Linked DNA regions of Homo sapiens: regions 1, 2, 3 and 4 are each reported to be linked to region 5. Evidence: microRNA targets listed by miRTarBase, many of them from high-throughput screens and not tested one by one. Region 5 holds a microRNA gene; each other region holds the end of a gene's coding sequence. Distances are from middle to middle.

Region 1 (3,000 bases), not on the chromosome of region 5:
TAATGTAAGATGTAACCACTGGAGGAAACTGGCTGAAGGACAGCTTGTCATCCCTACCCTCTCATTAGCATCTCTGCAACCTCCTGTGGACCTATAGTTACATACATTATATATATACACATACATACATATATATACACACATACATATAGATACATACATGCATATACACACATACATATATATACACACACACATATATACACACATATATATATACACATATATATACACACATATATATATACACACACATATATATATACACACACACACATATATATATATATCACACATATATATATATATATATATATATATATATATATTTTTTTTTTTTAGACGAAATCTCACTCTGTTGCCCAGGCTGGAGTGCAGTGGCGCGATCTCGGCTCACTGCAATTTCCGCCTCCTGGGTTCAAGCAATTCTCCTGTCTCAGCCTCCCGAGTAGCTGAGATTACAGGTGCACTCCACCACATCCAGCTAATTTTTTTTTTGAGATGGAGTCTCACTGTCGCCCAGGCTGGAGTGCAGTGGCGCGATGGCTCACTGCAAGCTCCGCCTCCCGGGTTCACGCCATTCTCTCACCTCAGCCTCCTGAGCAGCTGGGACTACAGGTGCCTGCCACCACACCCAGCTAATTTTTTGCATTTTTTAGTAGAGACAGCCTCTGATTTATGTTACGTGATAATATACTACCATTTGCATTTAAAATTATATATATATTTGTATGTGCATACAATATCTCCAGATGAATATGCAAAAACTGATCATACTGGCTGCTCTGGCAGAAAATCTCATGGCTAAAGAGGACTTTTCAACAAACCTTTTGTACCTCTTGAGTTTTGAACCATGTGGATGTTTTCCCGATCCAGAACACCATTCAAATGAGAAAAAATTCTGTTCTAGCCTCTTCCCCAAAATCAATGTCAACTTCACCTATCTAGTTTCCAGAAATCAGGTTCTTTCCCTTTCTGAAAAACCACTATTGCACTTTTCACACTACACCCTTGTCCTTGCAGTGATCCTTAAACCTTCCAGGGCCTTCTCCACCTAGAAGAAATTCCTCTTGAACTCAGAGGAGGAAAAAAAAAAAAAAAAGCTATTAAGACAGTTTAGGAATTAATAGGAAAATTTTAATATCACAATTATCACTGGATTACTGTTATTTTTCTTAGGTTTGATAATGGTATCAGGATTGTGCAGAAAAACATTCTTATCTTAGAAGATAATTCATGTTAAAGAATCTGGGATGGGAAGGGCCACGGTGTCTACAGCTTACTTTCACGTGGTCCCATGAAAAAAGAAATGTGTATAACTACAGATGTATAGATTAGACAGATATATGGGTGTAATATAGATACATGTCTACATGTAGATACGCAGTTTATAGGGATAAGAGTTAACATGACTAAATGTTAATTGGCAAATCTAGGCAAAGGTTATCTATTATACTGTTCTCACTTTTCTGTTTATTTCGAAAACAAGTTGAGGGGTAACTTTTTAAAATCCTACTGAAGTTTCCAAAAATTAGCTCAAATGCCACCTCCTCAAAGGGCTCTTCAGGATACATGTTGGGAGAAATGACTCCCTCTTCTGCATTGCGAAGGCACTTTACTTACGTTCATGATTCAACTGACTGAGCAAAAAAAACCACGGGGCCCCTAGTTCAAGCCCACCAATCTTGGTACCCTCTCACAGACACATCTCTCGGTTCATCCTCACACGTCCATCCCAGCAAGGCCTAGAATAGGATTAGTGCTTAAAGAAAAGACACTGGGACAGTCAGGTGCGGTGTCTCATGCTTGTGATCCCAGCACTTTGGGAGTCCAAGGCAGGTGGACCATGAGCTCAGGAGTTCAAGACCAGCCTGGCCAACATGGTGAAACCCCACCTCTACTAAAAATACAAAAATTAGCCAGGCAGTGGCAGGCGCCTGTAATCCCAGCTACTCAGGAGGCTGAGGCAGAGAATTGCTTGAACCTGGGAGGCAGAGGTTGCAGTGAGCTGAGACCATGCCACTGCACTCCAGCCTGGGCGACAGAGCAGGAGTCCATCTCAAAAAAAAAAAGAAAAGAAAAGACACTGGGTGGGAAATATCCACACCTCAAGAGTGAGCAGGAAGGCCTGGGGTGAGCTTATCAAACTCCTGCCAGGGAGCTGTGAGGGGAACTGTCATTAGGAGGACTAGCCCCAAAACAGAGGTCATTCCCAACGTACCCACTACGGACACCCTTTCATCTTGGGGTAAGGTCCAAATTTCCCAGAATTCAATGACTAAACTGCTCCACACCTTTTCCTAATTTCCTAAACTTCCATAGACTGAGCAATCACTCAGCCTGCCCTTTCAGACCAAGGGGCTGAGCACGCATGCGTGTGGGCATGTGGGTGTTGACACAGGTCCACTCACTAGGATGCATTCTCCACACATTTCCCACCCCGAATACAAACACGAAAGCAGGGCTGTGTCTCTATAACTCCTCATTCTTAACCCTACACACAATTCTGCACGTTTAGCATCCAGCCAGAATCCTACAATTCTGACACCATCGTGCTGAGTGATGGGACAGTCCATTACACCAATGTCAGTTGTTCCTCTCTGGATCGTCAAAAAGAGGACAGCTATGGAGACATCTGGGGAATACTATGGACACCCTGAAAAGCCCAGCAGACACTTGAGCTTCTGGCTGGGGACCCAGGTGTGGCAAAAGGCAGAAGCAGCAGTCGCTATCTAAGGACATAACTTTATTGGAAACAAAGAGTGGGGTGCAGAAGATGGCTAGGAGTCAGGCTCTGTGGGAGGTGGTGGCTTCTCATCATCAGGGGGACAATCGATGAAGTCGGCCAGCATGGCAGCTGTGTCATCCTGCTCCTTTTAGGCACAAAGATACAAGATTCAGAATAGTCACACACACATACACAGAAGAATGGTTCAGGCTGGGCAAACCTCTCCTAAGAGAAGCAGCTGCCACCCCTTCTCCCGCCAGCCCCACCTTCTC
Region 2 (4,055 bases), 58 Mb from region 5:
AGTGCAGTGATGCAATCTTGGCTCACTGCAGCCTTCACTTCCCAGGTGCAAGCGATCCTCCCGTCTCAGCCTCCTGAGAAGCTGGGACCACAGACGTGCAGCATTACACCCGGCTAATTTTTTGTATTTTTGTAGACACGGTGTTTCCTCATGTTGGCTAGCCTGTAGCGAACTCCTGGGCTCAAGCAATCTGCCCGCCTTGGCCTTCCAAAGTGTTGGGATTACAGGCATGAGATATGGCACCTGGCCAGGAATAAAAGTTAGCAATATACTTTGATTCAAAGTACCTCTGTATTATGAATATTTTACAATTTCTATCATTTTTTCCTGCAGGTGAAGACCTGGTTCCAGAACCAGAGAATGAAATCTAAGAGGTGGCAGAAAAACAACTGGCCGAAGAATAGCAATGGTGTGACGCAGGTAACAGGAAACTTCATTCTGTTCTTTCCTTTCAGTGATCTTTCAATCTTGTCCATCCCTGAAACACACAACTCCAGTCACAGACAGTTCTGGTTGTCCTTGTACCCTTTCTGTTAATCCCTCCTTCTCTTTCAGAAGGCCTCAGCACCTACCTACCCCAGCCTTTACTCTTCCTACCACCAGGGATGCCTGGTGAACCCGACTGGGAACCTTCCAATGTGGAGCAACCAGACCTGGAACAATTCAACCTGGAGCAACCAGACCCAGAACATCCAGTCCTGGAGCAACCACTCCTGGAACACTCAGACCTGGTGCACCCAATCCTGGAACAATCAGGCCTGGAACAGTCCCTTCTATAACTGTGGAGAGGAATCTCTGCAGTCCTGCATGCAGTTCCAGCCAAATTCTCCTGCCAGTGACTTGGAGGCTGCCTTGGAAGCTGCTGGGGAAGGCCTTAATGTAATACAGCAGACCACTAGGTATTTTAGTACTCCACAAACCATGGATTTATTCCTAAACTACTCCATGAACATGCAACCTGAAGACGTGTGAAGATGAGTGAAACTGATATTACTCAATTTCAGTCTGGACACTGGCTGAATCCTTCCTCTCCCCTCCTCCCATCCCTCATAGGATTTTTCTTGTTTGGAAACCACGTGTTCTGGTTTCCATGATGCCCATCCAGTCAATCTCATGGAGGGTGGAGTATGGTTGGAGCCTAATCAGCGAGGTTTCTTTTTTTTTTTTTTTCCTATTGGATCTTCCTGGAGAAAATACTTTTTTTTTTTTTTTTTTTGAAACGGAGTCTTGCTCTGTCGCCCAGGCTGGAGTGCAGTGGCGCGGTCTTGGCTCACTGCAAGCTCCGTCTCCCGGGTTCACGCCATTCTCCTGCCTCAGCCTCCCGAGCAGCTGGGACTACAGGCGCCCGCCACCTCGCCCGGCTAATATTTTGTATTTTTAGTAGAGACGGGGTTTCACTGTGTTAGCCAGGATGGTCTCGATCTCCTGACCTTGTGATCCACCCGCCTCGGCCTCCCTAACAGCTGGGATTTACAGGCGTGAGCCACCGCGCCCTGCCTAGAAAAGACATTTTAATAACCTTGGCTGCCGTCTCTGGCTATAGATAAGTAGATCTAATACTAGTTTGGATATCTTTAGGGTTTAGAATCTAACCTCAAGAATAAGAAATACAAGTACAAATTGGTGATGAAGATGTATTCGTATTGTTTGGGATTGGGAGGCTTTGCTTATTTTTTAAAAACTATTGAGGTAAAGGGTTAAGCTGTAACATACTTAATTGATTTCTTACCGTTTTTGGCTCTGTTTTGCTATATCCCCTAATTTGTTGGTTGTGCTAATCTTTGTAGAAAGAGGTCTCGTATTTGCTGCATCGTAATGACATGAGTACTGCTTTAGTTGGTTTAAGTTCAAATGAATGAAACAACTATTTTTCCTTTAGTTGATTTTACCCTGATTTCACCGAGTGTTTCAATGAGTAAATATACAGCTTAAACATAAATCTTTGTTAAATTTTTGGTTGGGGTGGAGAAGGAAATTAGCTGAGGACACTGCTATCTTAGAAATGCATAGAAATAGCTGAGCGTGGTGGCCTATGCCTGTAGTCCCAGCTATTTGGGAGGCTGAGGCAGGAGAATCGCTTGAACCTGGTAGGTGGAGGTTGTAGTGAGCCAATATCACACCACTGCACTCCAGCTTGGGCGACAAGAGCAAAACTCCCATCTCAAAAATAAATAAATAAATAAGTAAATAAATGAATAATAAATAAATATGCCAGTTTTAGAATGAATGAATAATAAATATGCCAGTTTTAGAAAAAAGGGCACTTACGTGCATTGTACATGTGCATCTACAAATGTAATGGGTTATTTCCGTGTATGAATCTGTAATTGATGCTAACATTTAAAGTTTCATCAGAGGCCTATATGTAAGTAAATTCTAAGGCTAGTTGAAACAGATTTATGTTCTCACCTTAAGAGCAGCTACGCAGGCATCTGTGAATTATACTAATAATCCTTTACTGTCCTTTTCCCATCTTGTGCCTGCCCTAAATGTATCTGATCTGAGAGCACGTCCCTTCACTCTGAAGCAGCATGATGCAGGTTATCAGAGTGGTTTTTTCCAGTCTTTTCTCTCATTATTTCCCCAATTGTCCAATGTTACTAAGACTATCCAGTCTAATTCCAAGTGTTTTTTTTTTGTTTTATTTTGTTTTTTTTTAAGACTGGAGTCTTACTCTGTTGCCCAGGCTGGAGTGTAGTGGAGCGATCTCGGCTCACCGCAACCTCCGCCTCCCGAGTTCAAGTGATTCTCCTGCCTCAGCCTCCCAAGTAGCTGGGACTACAGGGGTGAGCCACCATGCCCAGCTAATTGTATTTTTAGTAGAGACAGGGTTTCACTATGTTGGCCAGGCTGGTCTTGAACTCCTGACCTCATGATCCACCAGCCTTGGCCTCCCAAAGTGTTGGGATTACAGGCGTGAGCCACTGCGCCTGGCCTATCGTTTGTTTTTTTAGACAGTCTCTCTCTATTGCCCAGGCTGGAGTGCAGTGGCACAATCTTGGCTCACTGCAACCTCCGCCTCCTGGGTTCGAGCAATTCTCCTGCGTCAGCCTCCTAAGTAGCTGGGATTACAGGCACCCAACATTACACCCGGCTAATTTTTGGTATTTTTAGTAGAGATGGGGTTTCACCATGTTGGCCAGCCTGGTCTCGAACTCCTGACCTCAGGTGATCCACCTGACTCGGCCTCCCAAAGTGGTGGGATTATAGGTGTGAGCCACCGTGTCTGGGCAATTTTTTTTTTTTTTTTTGAGATGGAACTTCACTTTTGTTACTCAGGCTGGAGCACAATGATGCAATCTCTACTCACTGCAACCTGCACCTCCCAGGTTCAAGTGATTCTCTTGCCTCAGCCTTTCGAGTGGCTGGTATTACAGGGATTTGCCACTATGCCCAGCTAATTCTTTGTATTTAGTAGAGATGGGGTTTCACCGTATTGACCAGGCTGGTCTCGAACTCCTGACCTCAGGTAATCCACCCTCCTCGGTCTCCCAAAGTGCTAGGATTACAGGCATGAGCCACAGTGCCCAGCCTTCTTTTTTATTTTTTTAAGACGGGCTTATTCTGCTGCTCAGACTGGGGCTTAGTGGCACCATTTCACCTCACTGTAGCCTCGACTTCCCGGATTCAAGCAATCCTCCTGCCTGAGTCTCTCAAATAGCCCAGACTATAGGTGCACACCACCATGCCAGCTAACTTTTGTGTTTTTAGGAGAGACGGGGTTTCCCCATGTTGGCCTGGCTAGTCTCAAACTCCTGAGCTCAAGCAGTCTACCAGCCTTGGCCTCCCGAAGTGCTGAGATTACAGGCATGAGTCACCAGCCTAGCCCTGTATTATGTTTTCTGAACTTTTTTTTTTTTAATCACCCAGTATTAATCTTCAACCTCTTGGCAGGTAAGAATTTAGAGATCTATTTGGAATAATCTTTAAAGTAACAATAATAACTACAGTCAAAAGCAGTAAGATTAGTGGGCCAGGTGCCGTGGCTCACACCTGTAATCCCAGCACTTCGGGAGACCAAGGCAGGTGGATCACCTGAGGTCAGGAGTTCAAGT
Region 3 (4,055 bases), not on the chromosome of region 5:
TGCTTTTACACACCCTATGGTCTGAGAGCCTCTGCCCCATAAATCCACTCAACTACGTGGGTTTCACATGCCATGTGGCCTTTAACCAATAACCTCCTCATTCTGGCTGCCGTTACCACCTGCCTGATTCCCTAGTTCAAATTCTGAAGAGAGAATGGACGAACAGATGAATACACAAGTCTGACTGGCCTAGCTCAATGCTTTTCACTCCAGGACAATCCATAGGATTGGCTGTACTAGGAGCAGATGCCAGTCCTCCTTTGTACCAGACTCCCAAGACAAAGTACATGGCTGTATAGGAGAGAGAGGTCAGAGAAGACCTGGCGGAAAAGGCTGTGGGGTTGAGACCTAAGGATGGGCATGGGTTTGCCAGGACATGAAGGGTGCAGGGAGAATTCCAGGCACTTAAGAGAGCAGGCCCTTTGGGGGCAGGCAGGAAGCAGCATGGTATTGCTGGACTAAAACCTGTGGCAGGGGCAGGGGCTGCCCAGGGGAGGCAACCAAGTCTCTGAGGGTTTTGTCTGCCAGGCTGAGGGGCTGCCCTTCCTGTGTGGGCTGGAAAGCCAGGGAGAGGTGAAGACTGGCAGTGCTTTGGAGGCCGACTGGAGAGCTCTGAAGCTGGGCAATAGGAGACACTTGTCCCCACTTCCTTGGCTCTGAATTCCCTGAAGCCAAAGTCTGGATTGACTTCAAGGCTTGGCTGGAAAAAGCAGGAAAAGGGAGAAAGGAAGGAGAGAAGGTTCCAGAGGAGGAAAGGAAGCGTTGATGCACAGAAGACACAATTGGGCCAGGAATTTTTATTGTGAGAACGTTCTTTTGAAAAGGATCCTTTTTTCAAAGGCCTCTTGTGTTTGGCAGCCCTTAGAAAGCAAATTCTGAGAATTATTTTAGCCTGATTAAGCTCGCTGGTATCTCAAAATACTGAAATTATAAATACGTAATTACAAACAATGCCAAACTGCAAAATATGCATAAGAAAAGTCCCACAAAGTTGTGATTTTGCTACTTTTTCAATTCCAAATTCTTTCCCTAGGAAGTTTGATGCTGAGCCTGGCCTGTCTGTGGTGGGGAAGGAGGCCTGGGCCACAGCCACTGGACCTGTCTCTGGGATCTGGACCTGATGCCCAGCGAGTAGCCCGCAGGTTGCGTCCCCCACTGGAACACCCCTGGGAACCTGGGTGGGAGCGGCAGGTACAGGGGCCAGTGCAGAGTCAGGGCTTGGCCCATCAGGCCTGGGCCAGCACAGTGAGGCACATTCATTCATACACAGGAGTTGGATTTGCATTCTGAAAAGGTAGCACACATGACAGACCCGTGGGCAACCTGGCAGTGGCTGGGAAACCTGGCAGTGGCCATGCCACAGAGGGAGACCCAGGCTGCAGCTGCTGAAAGGGACTCACGCCCCTCCCAGCTGTGCCAACTGAGGCCCCTCAGGCTGCTGTGTACCAGTTAGTTAAGACACTGGAAGGCCAGGTGTGGTGGCTCACGCCTGTAACCCCCAGCATTTGGGAGGCCAAGGTGGGAGGATCACGAGGTCAAGAGATCGAGACCATCCTGCCAACATGGTGAAACCCCATCTCTACTAAAAATATAAAAATTAGCTGGGTGTGGTGGCACACGCCTGTAGTCCCAGCTACTCGAGAGGCTGAGGCAGGAGAATCACTTGAACCCAGGAGGCAGAGGTTGCAGTGAGCTGAGATCGTGCCACCGCACTCCAGCCTGGTTGACAGAGCAAGACTCTGTCTCAAAAAAAAAAACAAAAAAACTGAAGTAGGAAGATTTCTGTTCTATATCAATCAGGACTTTCTTTGTAAACGAGGTGCGTTCCTTTTGTTCTGTGGAGACCCAGGAGTAATATCACCAGAGTGAGGGTGATGAGGTTAGTAGGGATGCTCGCAGTCTGAGAAATGAACGGACTGCTTTGCATCAGTCCCTTCCCCTTCCCTGATTTTAAAAATTTAATTTTAAGGAGAAAATACTTCAGCATGAGACTTCAGTTCCTGAGGAAAATAACACTATTGCTCCATCCTTAGTATTCACTTAAACAAATGTTTAGCTAAAATTTTATTAAAAACTTTCAGCCCACCCGGACACGGAAGACTTTGCTTTTACAGCAGCTAAGGTATGTTTTCATTACCCCGTGAGTGATGCTAATGCATTGCAAATAGTTATTATGAGTTTATGTAGTGCTTGGTGCCTAAAATAAATTTCATTTAAATATTTAAAATAACTCCTGAATATAAGCAATTTATTCTGATTACTGATAAAATAACATTCACATTCAAGCCTACAAATCTGAGAAATCATTATTCCATATGCACAGAAGGCCACAGTCAGTAGTCTAATAGTACTGCTTACCAGTGTAGTGTAAACTTCTTTCAGAATCAGGGAACAATTCTAGATCAGCCATGGTGAGAAATAAGTGCTCTTCTCTTAGGCCAGCGACACTTCCGATGGGTCTTGACATCCCACCTATGGGCTGGTGTGTGAAACTCTCATCTCTACGTCCCTCCCCAGTTTTAAGAGTCACCATGTCACATAAAAGCTCCAGCATCAGCCAGGCACGGTGGCTCATGCCTATAATCCCAACACTTTGGGTGGCCAAGGCAGGTGGATCACGAGGTCAGGAGTTCAAGACCAGCCTGGCCAACATAGCGAAACCTTGTCTCTACTTAAATATACAAAAATTAGCCAGGCGTGGTGGTGCATGCCTGTAATCCCAGCTACTCGGGAGGCTGAGACAGAGAATTGCTTGAACCTGGGAGGTGGAGGTTGCAGTAAGCCAAGATCGTGCCACTGCACTCTAGCCTGGATGACAGAGAGATTCTGTCTCAAAAGAAAGAAAAAAAAAAGGCTGGGCGTGGTGGCTCACACCTGTAATCCCAGCACTTTGGGAGTCTGAGGCAGGCGGATCACGAGGTCAGAAGATCGAGACCATCCTGGCTAACACGGTGAAACCTCGTCTCTACTAAAAAATACAAAAAATTAGTTGGGCAAGGTGGTGGCGCCTGTAGTCCCAGCTACTCGGGAGGCTGAGGCAGGAGAATGGCGTGAACCCAGGAGGCGGAGCTTGCAGTGAGCCAAGATCGCACCACTGCACCCCAGCCTGGGAAGCGGAGCTTGCGGTGAGCCGAGATGGCGCCACTGCACCCCAGCCTGGGCGACAGAGTGAGACTCCATCTCAAAAAAGAAAAAAAAAAAAAATGCTGCAGCAGCCTACACAAGGCCCTGCTGATCTTCCGGGGTGTTATGTGGCCCATCTATCAGCACCCTGTTAGTATGCTTTTCGATAGGTCTAAGACTCACCCACTTTATTCAAGCCTACTGTGGCAGGTGCCTTTGTCAAACTTGAGCCTAACCATCCCACTGGCCAGGGTCCTGCTCATCACTGTCCTCCTCAGAGTCAGCAGACACCCTCTTGATTCTCTGGAGCGCAGCCTTGATGCTCCTCTCAAGGTCACTGGTGCGTCTGTTGCTGGTTGGTTTGCTGCTGGGGTTTGGGCCAAGATCAGGGTGAACTTTCTTCAGTTTGACCCCTTGCCTTATGGCAGCCAGAATGTGCTCATTGATTGAGGCGTGGGGAGGGCGCACCGCCGGCACTTCCACCTTCCGGAGAGGAGCTCTGCCATGCCTTAAGGAGGCCAACACTTCATCCATAGATCCTGAAATTGAATAAGCAGAGCTAGTACTATCAATAAAACACTTTCCCTTCCCAGGACATTACTGCTATGAAATTGTGAAATCTCCTATCAGTTAACACCATGATTTAAACAAATAATCACTTCATTAAGCAAATGCCTTGATTACGTGCTAACGATAAGCTCCCTGGTTGAATCCAGGACAGCTGAATAGCTCATGTTTTAGCTTAACCACTTCCTTTCTGCTAACTTCTTCAAATCCATAGCAACTGACAGGAACAGACATGCACTTTTGTTAGAATGACGGTTTTTCAAGACAAATGTGATCTGTCCCTCCCATCCTGAAGAGTGTTACGGAGGCCTGGGGTGGAATAGTCTCACCCACTGTGCGTGACCTGGATACCTCTGAAGCTGTAT
Region 4 (3,904 bases), not on the chromosome of region 5:
ACCTGCCAACTCATGCAGGTGAATTTTATCATGTCTGTTGAGAAGTATGTGAGGCTTCACCCTCACAACTCAACTGATTCTGCCTTCAAAGATATTTTCCAACCTCAAACTCCAACTTCAACCTCCGGGATGCAAATTTGCATGAAACAGAATCCAAATTAGATATCTTTGGGAAAGATATGCTAGAAGAGTATCTTTCCAATGCAGACAAAATCTAATGAATTTAGTGATGTAATGTCCAAATGAAAATTCATCCATTTGGAAACTCAACAAAACACATTTTTAGCCAATGGTTTCTAATTTTGCAACTTGCTTTTTGCCTGAAGATTTTGGTCTTTTCATTTCCTTACATGGAAAAAAAGGCATCCCGACCTTAAGTCTTTTAAAAGTAGTAGCAGCTAATCTGCTTTTCCAATTATGTCATCCAAATATAAAACTACTAGTATTTTCCCAATGAGATTATTAAGTAATTAACAGTCTACAGGCTGGCTAACAACATGCTTACAGCTAAATTCTACCCGGAGGACCACACTAGTAAACCCTTTTCAAAGTAATCCTACCTACCAAACTCAGACAGTTATATGACAAAACCACTAAAAATCCAAAGTTAATTAAAAATACAAAGCCAAGCCAACATCATAACACAAACTTGTCAAACTCTCTGTGGTTGGAGCTTGGGTGACAAGTGAAGGCGTAGTGGTGGCCCTACCTGGGTCAAGTTGCAGGGCTGAGATCATTTGGTGTACTTGCTCAGATGGAGCTTCCTTTTACTCTGCCCTCTATTCTAACCTCCACGTGCTTATTTAAGTGTGTCTCACCAAGCCTCCATCAAGATCTAGAGGCACGATCTCTCACTGCCATCCACATGTCTCATATCCCTCCCACAAACTGGTATACTGAAGAGATTCATTTGACAGAATATCTCCATCCCTTAGTCCCTCAAATAGCTGCACACCTACGACACGCATCACCATTTACACTGTGATGAACAGAGTAACTATAAAACAGCAACAATCCTTAATCATGAAACTGAAAGATGTCTTATCTCAAGGGATAGGAAGGTAATTCATCCTCCATGTTTAATTAGTTCCTAAGCTGCTTTATAAATGAGTCTACTACATAATCAAGTGGTGATCCAGAGCTCGATTGTCAGATTTGGTCACTGTGCTGCAGACTTGGCACATATTTTACACTCAGTCACCAGAGATGACAGAGAATCCTCTTGCCTCCCTGTTGTATGTAAGTAGATATAACAAGTCACTGAAACTAGAACTACAAGTCTTTCATCCATGAGGCAATATGCTTGTTTCTCTGGGAAACTGCCTCAACATTCTAATGTCTAGTTTCTGGATGTGGGATTTCAAGAAGAATCTACTCCTAAATCCATGATGGTCTAGGATTGTGGTTTAGGTTGAACTTACAAGTCAAGCCAGTGGGCTTCATTATATAGTAATAGCCAGGCACTCTACCTGGTAAACCATGATAAAGAGACAACTTGAGTCACTGCAAAGTCATCAGCTTAATTTTTATATGTGACACCAACCTTGGGTGTTCAGAGTCTTTAATGTTATCATCATTTTCCTCTTTTAAGAGGCTCAGAAAAGATTCTTTCAGGTTTCATTTGTGAGTGTTTGGATGCATAAGTGTTGTTGCTGAGACTGTAAACATAAAGCTCAACCACAGTGGGAGCATAAAAAGTGCTGGGTTCAGCTGCAGGGATGCTCCCATCAGCCATATTAACAACATGGCTTCAGCCATTGGAGTACAACTTCCACAGCCTTATACAACAAAAGGCCTTAAACTCAAAGATGACCAGAGCACAGCTCAAGTCTGGCTGTTTTGCAACTGGGGATATATCTAACCTTGACAATGAGAGTGCAGAGTCATCACCTGCTGTTTCTATCATGGACCTGCATGGCTGGCTTTAATAATCACACAAGTTTGCATCTTTCATGTGCATATCTATTATTTATCTGGTCATAACTCAGTGAACAGAATTTGATAACCCAGCATATTAAAGGCTACATGGAATTATATACCAGCAGGTAATTACCAGTAAGTAATGCATGGATAGTGTTTACCCCAAGTGTAAGAATCTTCTGGTGAGCTGGAACATCAAAAATGATATTTACATTGTGATGTTTAGGGACATAAAATGAATGTGAAGGATCATAAGGGGGTAGTCACAACCAGTGAGAAATGTCTCCAAATTAGGTGAATGGTTCCCAATGTTTAGGGCTCTTTCAAAGCATCTCAAGGTGAAGCACTACCCCACGACTCATTTTAAAAAAATAAAAGTTAGCTACTATTTAGAGAGTTTGGAGTTTTCTTAGAAATTTTCATGGAAATGATTCACAATAATATGGACTTTAATAAAAGGAGTAATTGTAATTCAGTCAAAAGTTAATGAGCCAAACAAAGGAAAGGGAAACACAGATAAGAGAAAAAAGAAAGTAGAAAACAGAAAACCTATAAGAGAGAAAATGTGAATAATAATTGAGGAAGTCCAGATTTTCAAGCCACTAGGAAGAAAACTGTATATCATTACTTCTAGGTAGTGATACCTTGACTTTTGTTCCCATAGATTTGAGCAAAATACAATTTAAAAATCCTGCCAGTTATGGACCCACTTACCAACTGTGTAAATGTTGTTGTTGCAAAGGAGGCAGAGGTGTGAATTCCTTGTTGGACACTTTCCAGACCTCTCTTAACTCCCACTTGTAAGTCTAGAGTGTAGCATTTTGGCTACTAAGGCATGCATCAACCAAACTGTTCTTCAAAAGGACAGCTTTGCACACAGAGAACCCCAGGTGAGGATTTACACTTCAAATAATGGAGTTGAAAAACACTGATGCCAGCTGATGCCTAAAACTTGTCAAAATAAATGTCACCCTTTCTTCTTATCATTAAAATTAACAAAATAGGGAATCAGGAAAGGGATGCTAACAAGAAAGTCCTCTGGTTGTGTGGCATAGCATCTTTTTAAGAGTAGCATTGCTATGCTCATTTATTTTCTTGATACTCTTGATTTTATGATGTTGCTACAACATCTAACCAGTGGGTTTTGACAATGAAAATTCTCACCTGAAGATTGAATCTGTGGGATACACAAAAGTTTGACAGATTCTGAAATATGTTCTTTTCTGGGTATAAGAGTAGAGTTTGGGGGATGGTCCCTTGTGTCTAAGTTCTCATGTATATGTAAGACCACTTGTTGCATTTCTCAGGAGCCTGTCTTTATCACAAGTGCTTCCCATTCTTTGTTTTGGGTAGTGTGGGCTTAAAACAATATTGTAGGGACTGTCATTCCATAAAGCACAAAAAGATGGTGGAATCTGAGAAATGCATATCAAATGCTAAAAGAAAAAAAATGACTAAGTAATAAAACGTACACTGCCCTTAAGTTGTAGTGTCAACTTACAATGACTTCTGTTTTTTACAGATAACAAAAGAAGCATAAAAACAAACATAACCAAAGAGAACGTTCCCCAGTGAGTGGAGTTCCACCAGTGACCATCAGTGCGCTGGTAGAGGTAGAGTGATGGGTCGTGATGCTAGAGATCTGAGAACACCCACTACAACAAGTGGGCATCGATGCGCAGCCAACACAGTCCTTGGCGAACGTAGCGGACAAGATTGGTCATGCTGCTGTGCTGGGTCAGAGGCCCCATCAGCGTGTCCAGATCACCAAAGAATTCTGAAAAGCAGAGCAGTTCTCAGTTAGGCCTTTATATGATATCATGAAAATATGCACCACATTGAGAAGCTGCTTTCACACAACACCACAACCACATGGACAATGGAAATGTGATTCATTTGTCCATTCATTCATTCAACAAACATTTATAGAGTGCCTACTAGGAGACCAAAACTCCACAAGTTTATCAAGCCCTATTATTTTAAT
Region 5 (4,055 bases):
AATTGTTTTATCAGGATAATTGTCTCATGACCAAATCCACGCTCAATTAGAGCCATTCAAAATTCCTTAAGATCATGGGTTCTGACTTCAGCCAAACAAAACAATCAAAACCTACCAAAAAGGGACTGGATTGTAATGTCCTCTCCATCATCCTCAGTGTGAGTCCTCAGAGCCTCCATCTGCCAAGAACATTCAGTTGGATTCCATCGTTTGGTTTAGCTTGCTTGCACGGGTTGTAGGAAATGTCTAATTTGTAAATGTTAATAGATACCTTTGGAAAGAATCACCTTGTTATTCTGATTGACCCCTCTTGTTTTTTGGTTAATCCCTGACTAGCCTGCTTGTCTGAAAATGAGCCAGGTTCACCCTTAGCTACGGCATGCTCTGGGTTGAAAGGGGATTTCTTCCCAAGATCTATCCTAAACTCTTAGGACAGTTTATCCTGTATTGACTATTATTACAGCTTTTTAAAAACAGACTTAGTGACCTATTATATCTTAAGGAGACTATGTGAAATGTCCATCAAGTAATTTTTATTCCTGAGAAAATGGCTGGTCAAGGGCCTAGGTCAGCTTTTTGTTTAATCTACACCTTTCAACTCTGGGCCTTCATTCCTGCTGTTTCTTGGATCTCCCTCTTTTGAAATCCTACCAATCATCAGAGCTCTACAAAACAGCCACCTCCTGGAAGCTTCCCTAATCTCTACAACCAGAAGTACTCCCTTTATCAGTATTTCCACAGCAATTTCTTTGTATTTCTATTTTATATTTATCACTTTCTGAATTATATCAAAGCTGCTTGTCTTATCTCTTTTTTTTTTTGAGACGGAGTCTCGCTCTGTCATCCAGGCTGGAGTGCAGTGGCACAATCTCGGCTCACCGCAAGGTCTGCCTCCCGGGTTCACGCCATTCTCCTGCCTCAGCCTCCCGAGTAAAGGTGGGACTACAGGCGCCCGCCACTACGCCCGGCTAATTTTTTGTATTTTTAGTAGAGACGGGGTTTCACCATGTTAGGCAGGATGGTCTCGATCTCCTGACCTCATGATCCGCCTGCCTGGCCTCCCAAAGTGCTGGGATTACAGGCGTGAGCCACCGCGCCCAGCCTTCATCTCTTTTACTAGGTTGTAAACTCCCTATATTAGTTTTCTATTGTTTTTGTAACACATTATCACAAATTTAGTGACTTAAAGTAACATAAATTAATTATTTTGCAGTTCTGGAGGTCAGAATTCCTTAGCATTCTTTCTGGAGGCTGTTGGGGAGAACTCACTGCCTTGCCTTTTCCAGCTTCTAGAGGCCACCTGCCTTCTTTGGCTCATGGCCTCTTCCTCCGTCTTCAAAGCCAGCAACGTGACATTTCAGATCTCCCTCTCTCTGTCTGTCTCACCGCATCTCTTCACTACCCTCTTCCTCTCATTCTGGCCCTTCTGCATGTCTTTTATAAAGACCTTTGTGATTTCACTGGGCCCACTCATATAAGCCAGGAAAATCTCTGTGTCTCAGATCCTTAATTTAATTACACCTGCAAAGTCCGTTTTCTCGTGTAAAGTAACATATTCACAGGTTTCTGGAATTGGGACGTGGACATCTTCGGGGGACCATTACTCTGTCTGTCATACTCCCTGAGTGTGTAAGGGCCATCTCTTCAGAGCCTAATGTGTCATCCTACACAGAGCAGGTGTTTCCTTATAAATTAAGTTGAATTAAATTACCCCTATGAAGCCACATAATCAATAATTCAGCTATAATAAACATTGCCGAATAAATTAACAAAGGGAGGATAATGACTCCTTATGATGATGGATAGAAACACTGAAGAAAACCATTTTCAGAGGATTTACTGAATTTTCCTCTCCAAGGAGCTTGTAATAGAAGGGTAAACCTCTAGTTTCTTGTCCAGCAGAGGAATAGGCTCATGTCTTTTGTTTTATTTTATTTTTTTGGTGAGTCAGTATGGTTGGGTTAATCATATTCACATTAGATTCCATGTTGAAGAACAACTAATCAAAGAAGAAAATCATCAGGAATCAGGGTGAGATTAACAGACCAAGGTCAGAAACATGGAGTTACAATTTTCCAAAAAAGCACGAAGTGAGATTAAAACCACAGTAAGTCTTAGTCTGACTGACAGGCTTTATACAGGCCCTCGGTAAGCAGTTGGGAGAACCCATGCCCACCACTGCTCTGTACGGTATCTGGCTGCTCAGAGCTCTCTGATTCACAAAAGAGATCATCAAGAATTGACTCTGTGTTAAACTGTTTTTCACTTAGAATATGGACCCCCACCAATACATTCAATGAAGGGTCATTAAGGAAGCTCTGATTAACACCAGGCCCATGCAGTTACTCCGCACATATAATCTGTGGGTATTATGTTGATTTGAACTTGCTTAGCTGACTTAAAGCAGGGTTTCTCAAACTGTAGTATGCATCAGAATGACTTGGAAAGCTGGTTAAAAACGCAGATTGCTGGGTCCACCCAGCTTCTGATGCAATAGGTCTGGGGTTAGAAATTTTGCTTTCTAATGAGTTCCCAGGTGATGCTGATGCCAATGATGTGAAGCCCGCTCTTCACATCCGTGAAAATCGCTGCCTTAAGGTGCTCTTAAATTGTTATAGATTGGTAGATCCTACCTTTCCATCACTGGTATGTTTTTTGAGAAAAGGATCCTTTCTTTTCATTCTGTTATATTCATCCTATTACATAGGATGTTGGTTAGCACAGAGTGGGAGCTCTAGAAAGATTGTTGACCAATCATCTTATTGACTAGACCATCTTTCTAGAGTATAACTATTTTGGACACCTCAAAGATGAAGTCAGATAAGCTGGCAGTGACCTGATTAACGTTGTGGTAAGCAGATGCCACTGTGGCTGGGAAGTACCAAATCTTCTGTTGAGTGATTCAGTCTTCCTGACTAGATTTGCCTTCTAGTGGGTGTATTAATAAGCGTTAGTTGATATGAATTAAATGTTGCAACTTTCTATGGGTAATAAGAGGATACCTTTATAGTTTCATGATGTGGAGACCAAGATACATAAGAAAGCAAGAATGAGTCTCCGGGTGTTCCCTCTGATCAGCAAACATGAATTCATAATTTCATTTACTCTCATTTTTGTAATGCACTCTGAGCAATCCTCCAGGCAGATCCTATTTACTAAGCTTCAGGCTTTTGTCCCATTTTATAATGCCCAAACACATGGAGAAAACATTTTGTTGTTTTTAAAAACAGGTATGGGATTTCTGATATAATCAATTTTATTGACTTCTTGGGAGTTGTAATGATCTGTGACTCACTGCATAATATTGTAGTTTTATAGGGTGGCACATCACCCTGTGTAAAACAACTTTAATGACCTGAGGACTGATGAGTACAGGAAGTGAGGTTTATCATGAGTAGCATTTATTAAGCATCTGCTAGAATCAAAGCACTGCATTAGCTACTAAGGTACAAAGTAAGACACAGTTTAATAAGGAAGACAGGGCATCTACCCAAGTCAACAGTTCAGTGACATCTGTTATTTGAACCACACACCAATGCAACCGAAGTAAATGCTGAAAGGGTGAGAAGAAGGAATAGATTACTATGCATTTTTGAGAGGATGAAGAAGGCTTCTTGGAGAAGGTTTCTGAAAAGAGATACGGAATTAAGAGAAATAGAAAAGAGCACTGACGAAGCACTCAGGATGGCTATTCAAGGAATTGGGGATCCACAGCAGCTGTGCACAACCATCCCTAATGCCAGAAAAATGGGGTAAGGGTGAAGGGAACTGGGTCTAGAGCTTTGCATGTTTTTTTCTGGTTAACCCTTAGAGTCACCCTGAAGGTGTGGATCCCATCTTATAATAAGGTGAGGACACTGAGTCAGGAAACTAACTTGCTAAAATCAAGTCCTCCCAGTCCTCCCATCAGGTCCTTCCAGATCTGGAGGAGCCAGGATTTGAACTCACATTTGTCTGACTTCAAAATCCATGCTTTTTCTTGTGTTCCAAATTGCACAATGGAGTCACTGCCAGTTCAAGCTCCTATGAAAAGGGATGGATGTGAAAAGTCATTT

What was found. Region 5 holds the annotated microRNA hsa-miR-6502-3p (UAGACCAUCUUUCUAGAGUAU, at 2,768-2,788, shown strand). A microRNA usually pairs through its seed, bases 2 to 8, with sites in the 3' UTR of a target mRNA and lowers its output. Matches are read on the target gene's strand: a 7mer-m8 pairs with bases 2 to 8, a 7mer-A1 pairs with bases 2 to 7 and ends in A, and an 8mer does both.
Region 1: the mRNA of PELP1 is a reported target of hsa-miR-6502-3p. Seed matches in the 3' UTR shown: 7mer-m8 at 2,012-2,018.
Region 2: the mRNA of NANOG is a reported target of hsa-miR-6502-3p. Seed matches in the 3' UTR shown: 7mer-m8 at 1,412-1,418.
Region 3: miRTarBase lists WHAMM as a target of hsa-miR-6502-3p. Seed matches in the 3' UTR shown: 7mer-m8 at 2,932-2,938 and 7mer-m8 at 1,547-1,553.
Region 4: miRTarBase lists AFF2 as a target of hsa-miR-6502-3p. The part of its 3' UTR that is shown has no 7-base or 8-base seed match.

Annotation. Positions count from the first base shown.
Region 1 is chr17:4,668,659-4,671,658 of GRCh38, forward strand. PELP1 (proline, glutamate and leucine rich protein 1) reads right to left here. Exons shown (of 17, transcript NM_014389.3): 17 at 1,116-2,873. The coding sequence ends at 2,781. Among named protein-coding and RNA genes, the nearest start is that of ALOX15, 28 kb to the left of the region's middle. RefSeq lists an enhancer at 1,369-1,538.
Region 2 is chr12:7,794,124-7,798,178 of GRCh38, forward strand. NANOG (Nanog homeobox) reads left to right here. Exons shown (of 4, transcript NM_024865.4): 3 at 334-420; 4 at 556-4,055. The coding sequence ends at 972. Among named protein-coding and RNA genes, the nearest start is that of NANOG, 6.7 kb to the left of the region's middle.
Region 3 is chr15:82,832,836-82,836,890 of GRCh38, reverse strand. It overlaps WHAMM (WASP homolog associated with actin, golgi membranes and microtubules), which reads right to left. Exons shown (of 10, transcript NM_001080435.3): 10 at 783-3,662. The coding sequence ends at 3,355. It also overlaps a transcript of HOMER2 not described here. Among named protein-coding and RNA genes, the nearest start is that of WHAMM, 25 kb to the right of the region's middle. RefSeq lists an enhancer at 3,406-4,055.
Region 4 is chrX:148,991,004-148,994,907 of GRCh38, reverse strand. It overlaps AFF2 (ALF transcription elongation factor 2), which reads right to left. Exons shown (of 21, transcript NM_002025.4): 21 at 1-3,697. The coding sequence ends at 3,576. Among named protein-coding and RNA genes, the nearest start is that of AFF2, 490 kb to the right of the region's middle.
Region 5 is chr12:66,248,361-66,252,415 of GRCh38, forward strand. It overlaps MIR6502 (microRNA 6502), which reads left to right and starts at 2,722; the gene lies at 2,722-2,797. IRAK3 (interleukin 1 receptor associated kinase 3) reads left to right here. Exons shown (of 12, transcript NM_007199.3): 12 at 1-4,055.